Regions from separate parts of the Homo sapiens genome. Here region 1 is linked to region 2. The links come from fine-mapping of genetic effects on gene expression. A gene starts in region 2. The other region holds a variant in brackets. All regions are shown on one strand. Distances are between the middles of the regions.

Region 1 (2,918 bases), 110 kb before region 2:
CTTAATTGTCCACAATTTTTAATTTAATAATTGGGTGGAAGTTTTCATAATATTTTCGTATGCTTTTCTGTGGTCTCCTAATTTTACATAAGCATGTACTATCCTATGGTTAAGAATGAATGAACGGAAGGAGATAGGGACAAATATTATTTTAAACAAACTATTAAAAATTAAACTTTTTTTCATGCTCTAGCCAGCCATTTATGAGATTGCAAATGAAACATTTAGTACTTGTGGTCATAAATCACAAATCAGTGATTTTTTCATATTTATTGCATACATTTCCCTCCAAAGATGATTTGGATTTGCCTAGGGTCATATTTATTTTGCGTTTCAACAGGTGGCAGGATATTATTGGAAAACTGGTCAAATTGGATCCTATTTGATCTAAGGTGCTTCCTGTTTAAGTGTAAAAGGCTAGTTGTAAAAATCCCCCAAAGTGCCCTTCTCTTAATTTTGATTTCTCTTCAAACTACTTCCAGGTTTATTTTACTCAGCCAATGGCATGACAGCTAAGCAATTCCTTGCTTGCTTACCAGTCTTCCCTCACTGAACTGAGAGCTCTTTAAGGACAGTGACAGCCACTCATTAGCATTGCACTTCAAGCTGATGGTCCATGGGGGCCTTCATACATATTTTTTCAATAGAGGAATGAATGAATGAATGAATGAATGAAAATAGAGTAAACTGGCTTTGATCTTACTCTTGCCCTGTTCATATCTGAGCAGTGGCTGGTGGGTCCTGATGGTAGGTGGCCTACACAGGAGGGTTTAACCCTTAAAGTGCCCCTTTCTCTCTTTGTGTTACGTTTCTTTAAGCATCTTTTAGGAGTAATCTCTTTTTAAGTCTTTTATTATTCAGGTTTGCTGTTAACATCAGAGTCTTTGAAATGAGATGAAAAATATTGGGAAACTTTGTAGACGTAACTCCAGAAGAAGACTATCCTCTCTCTCTCTCTCTTGCTCTCTCTCTCTCTCTCTCTCTCACACACACACACACACACACACACACACACACACACACACACTGGGTTAAGCTGCGGAATCCCCATGCCTAAAGGTATACTTTGCAAATAAGAAAGGAGGCCTGAGGACTGGTCCTAGACTTTTGAGATTTCCATACATCTTGGAAGGAAGGTTGAGGAAGGAGCAGGCTTTCTGACCATAGGAAGGACTTGGCAGATATGAAAGGCCAGGATGTTGTTCTCTGGGTGACTGCCACTTCAGCAAGCAGGACAAATGACTCAAC[C/A]CTTTGTGTGGAAGGGTTGGCTTAGAATGTCACTTGTGGTTTTCTCCCAGGCCGATGCATGATTTGCCTCTGTGTTTAAAGAGCTTGAAGCCACATGCCAAATTTATGGGCAAAAATGTAATAACATGGCTTATAGGCAGTGGTATGATGTAGATATGATTTAATTTTTAAAATATGCTAAAAAGTATTGACTCTATCTAGTGAAAAGAAAATTGGGCAACAATCAGCAAATACCATCAATATGGACACATTTCTCGGCAGTTTTGGGAAACACATGCTATTTCTTCACCCCTCGCCACCACCCTTCCCTACCTCCCAAGATGGGTCATTGCCTAAGTTGCACTTAACTATTTCTCTACAGACTCACCCAGTAAGTCAATACTTTCATTAATGTTACTGATTTAGATACTAAAACTTGTGCCAAACTTTCCACTATATCAGGAAAACCAACAGGGAGTCTAACTCCAAAAGGAGATTCACTGAAAAATGCTTAGGACCCTCATTGATTATAGAAATGTCAGACACCACAGTGAACTTTCCAATAAGCAATTATCCCCCTATTTCCTGAGATTATGAATTTGGGTCCAGTTATGTAGCACTTTTTGTAGAAACCCTGATCTTGCCTATAGAAGGCTGTCTAAAAAAAAATCACAAAGATGTTTTGCTTAATTTCCAAGTACTATAGGCTCTACTACTGTAGGGTCTACCCTTTTGACATTTCTTGAAACCACAGCCTCCCCTCCACCCTTCCTGCATCACTGCAGTAGCTCCTAAATGTTCTCACTGCTCACAATCCTGCTTCCTTCCAATTAGTCATTCTCTCTGCTACCAGAGGGATTTTTATAAAATACAAATATGTTTATGTTATTCTGCTTAAAATCTTTAGTGATTCTCCATAGTTTTTGAGATAAGCTCAATTCCTTGCCTTAACTGAGAGGTCTTTGGTGATCTGGCCCTGCCCTCCCCTTGGCCACGTCCCTGAATGTATCTGCACCAGGCACAAGGACTTACCGACAGGGCCCTGGATGCATCATGTCTATCTATTTGTCTGTGCCTTTGGTTATCCTATTCTTTACTCCTAGAATATTTGTCTTTTGTTTTCTTAATTAGCTTCTACCTTCATTTAAAACTCATTATAAGCATCCATTCCTCTGAAAAGTCTCCCCTGCCCCTCAATGTGCTTTAGATGGCCTGTTCATCTGTACTTGGCATCACTCTGGGCACACCGCCAGCATTACCATCACCTAGGGTAGTATTTGGTGATGTGCTGGGCTGCCCCTTCCTAATTCAAACCTCTCTCCCCCATTATAAGTTCCTGGAGGGCAGGAACCACATCTTGTTTGTCATTGTATCTTGGTACCTAGTTCAAAGATGAGAACGGTGGGGTGTTAAACAAATGGATGAACTTAGAGATTCTTTTAATTAGCTCTTGCATGTCAGGGTAGAGGATATTGGTATGTGAAAGTTAACTACTACTAAATACTAGTTCACATATTCCTAATACACCTGAGCCAAATGAAAAAGTCAAATGTACATTTCTACGGGATCTTATAGCATTATTTCATTTGTTCTTCACAACAGCCCTAGAGTGCAAGTTTCATAACATTTATCACCTTTTGTGGATAGGGGAACTGAAGCTCAGAAAGGCGAAGTGACTTGCCTAAGGTCAG
Region 2 (2,918 bases):
TATGCAGGCATATCTGCCTCTCAAGAAATCTCAAGAGGCTTAGGGATTCACACTGAAAGGCTCCATATAACCAACCTCAAAGCCATGGTATTCAGACGAGAACCCAAGTTTATCGTGCATTCAAAAGTTCTGTTCCTCAAAAAGCATCTACAAAGTGTGATTAGCTAATGAATCCATTAATCAAATATTCCTACTTGGCACAAGTCCCTGCTGTGAGAGGACAGTTAAGATAGGTCCCTGCCTTAAGAATATTGTAACCCAACTGAAGAAATAGGATGTGGAAGAACTAAGATGTCGATTAACAGCACAAGGCACAGAAGAACTAAAGTGTCAACTAACAGCACAAGGCACACACAGTGTAAGTCTCAGCCAGTTCATATGGCCCATATCCAACAATACCAACCCGTGTTGAACATTTATTATACAAGTGCTTTACAAGTATTTTCTTATTAAAGCTTCACAACCCTATGAAATAGATACAATTACAGTCTCTTTAAAGAACTTGAGTAGCATATCTAAAGTCATGCAGTTAAAAAACAGTTTCAAGGTCAGGTCTGATTCCAAAGCCCAGGTGCATAACCACAGAGCCCCTGCAGCTTGTAGAGCTCACAGTGCTTGGGACTGGCCTAGGAAGTCAAGGCTAGATGAGGAAGGGTACTCGGAGTTAGGCCTTAAAGTGGGCAACACTGAAATAGGCCAGTGATGGAGATAGGTCACTGTGTGGCACTGCGGTGGAAAGAGGGTTGGAGAGAGAAGATAGAGGAGAAGAGGAAAGAGGGCAGAGCATGGCAGCTGCTTGGGCACAGCCACTTTAGGGTGAGAGATGAGTGAAGATGTCTACCTTGTAGGCCATATCAACATGTCCCCCTTCTTCTGTGAAAAATGCCATCATCCCACACAGGAAGAGTTGGAGAGGGATCTGACAGTGGAGTCTGGTAGGAAAGGAGTCTGGCTTTTCATTTGCGCTTCCTTCTGCCCCTCTTGCCCCAGAGCAATATCCCAGGCTTTCCACCAACCCAGCCCACGGGGTGGCCATGCTACAAGCCTTTTGAGTCCTGCATCCCAAGAGGGGCAGCTTCTTGGCCTGAAGTTGTCTAATAGAGCCTGCCTGGCTCCAAGCAGGCCTCATCTCTGCTCTGTCTACTGGATCTGGGCTCTGAACTGGGGTGGGAGGTGGGGAAATGGGGAGGCTGGTTCAGGCTACCACTTCCTCTCCTCACCATTGGATAGCCAGCCTTTCAAGGAAAGTAGGGGGCCAGTTCTGTGGCATAGAACAGTATAGTTCTTAGGCCCTCCTATTTCAGAAAAACACTCAAGCAGTGTTTTCCCTCTGCTCTCACACCACGACAACAGTCATCAACACAGAAGACTTCTGCGACCAAATGTAGGGGATTTTCCCCCACACACCAAGCAGCGGGCACCAGCTGGGTGTCCTCCAACTCAGTTCCAACACTATCTACCTGGAAAGAGTGTCTGATCCCACAGGTTGAGGGCTCAGTCAGATTAAGAGATACATACGCGACGTCTGGAAGATCCCGAGCACAGGACCTTCCGTCCTGATAGGATAAGTTCTTCTTCACCTTCCTGTTTGCCTCCACGTGTTCAGCCCTCCAGAAACTCCCTGAACCCTGTCCTTTGGGCCTTTTATGGAGATTTCATTTGTTGTCCATGACTGAAGCATGTGATTGAACAAAATGTGATTGGACAAAAAGGGTATGATCTAATCTCAGCAAGGTCTGTCTGTCCAGATTCTTCTTCCTCTCTTTGTGCAGCATTCCTTCCTCCAGGGTATGGGGCATGACCTCCTCTGGAATGAGGGTCTTATGACCCACAATCAGATTATAGAGTCCCGCCTTGGGTGGATGAAAGGAGGGCAAAGAAGGCCAGAGAAATATTCTGTTTCCTGAGGCCTAAAGCACCTCTACATTATAGCAAAAGACCTCAGCAAGTGTCATGGGAGTTATGGACAAGAACCATGGACAAAAATCTATATACATGTAATCATAAGATCACACCCCCCACCACACACCACATTGTTCTACATAGAAGTGCCTTCACTATACAGCTTTTCATTTATTCATTCGTTCATTCACTCATTTATTCAACGGGTAATAGTGAATTCCAAATCAGGAACTGTGCTATGTGTTGGGGGTGACATGGCCCCTAGCCTCAGGAGGCTTCTATTCCATGGTTAATGGTGGGTATTGCTGAGAGATGATCAGTCAACAGTAACTGCAATGAATGTTAGGATAAAGAGAAGCCCAGAAGGCTCCACGGTGTTCCAGCTGCTCACAGGGTAATCTGCCTGTCTTTTTTACTTCCGTATCTCCAATGCCCATTATCATACCAGGCACAGGAAGTGCTCAGTTAAGTGTTTACTGAATTAAATGAAGATCTGAATGATGCTGAGTGTCAACCCTCCCTCTCAGTGGCTCCTCCCCATTGGCCCTAAACCTGATACCTGGATGAAAAGAGATAAGGATACATGACAGTTCTTCAAGTAGGTCACAGAACGTTTGAGTTGGGAGGAAATGGACAAAGCTTTTTACATCACTGCCATCCCCTCCCAGTCATCATATCCCCACAGTGGGGGTACTTTATGAAACACTTGGACCTTCATGCTTTCCTAATTTCTTCTTATCCTGTATGCTCTTCTAAGAATACTGAAGTTGGTCAATGTTCCTATTAAAACTCAGGAATCTAAACTTTGACTCAGAATTTCTGATTGAGATGTCACTTCAGTTTCCTTGTGCATTCTCAGAGGCTCTACCCTGGCTCACCCTGGAGAGTAGGGGGCAAGAAGTCTGATACTACTCAGCTTTCTCTCCTGTGCCAAAAAATCCTACCTGCAAGAATTGGTATGTGTATTAGTCCATTCTTGCCTTGCTATAAAGAAAAGCCCGAGACTGGGTAACTTA

Which allele goes with the higher level. Alleles are on the strand shown, and positions count from the first base shown. SD is a standard deviation of normalised expression in the study named.
For the expression in whole blood of the gene that starts at base 1,620 in region 2, allele A in region 1 goes with a higher level than allele C (small effect, 0.22 SD a copy in GTEx).

The links.
Region 1: its variant is fine-mapped to the expression of CYP19A1 in whole blood (GTEx, PIP above 0.99). The same link has a PIP of 0.9 or more in damaged cartilage.

Annotation. Positions count from the first base shown.
Region 1 is chr15:51,222,610-51,225,527 of GRCh38, forward strand. The region is part of intron 4 of CYP19A1 (cytochrome P450 family 19 subfamily A member 1); the gene reads right to left. All of the region lies in intron 1 of MIR4713HG (MIR4713 host gene), which reads left to right. Among named protein-coding and RNA genes, the nearest start is that of MIR4713, 18 kb to the right of the region's middle. The variant C/A (reference allele first, on the strand shown) is at 1,249.
Region 2 is chr15:51,336,977-51,339,894 of GRCh38, forward strand. It overlaps CYP19A1 (cytochrome P450 family 19 subfamily A member 1), which reads right to left and starts at 1,620. Exons shown (of 10, transcript NM_000103.4): 1 at 1,519-1,620. RefSeq lists promoters at 1,545-2,122, 1,545-1,863, an enhancer at 1,784-1,863 and cis regulatory regions at 1,815-1,832, 1,897-1,926.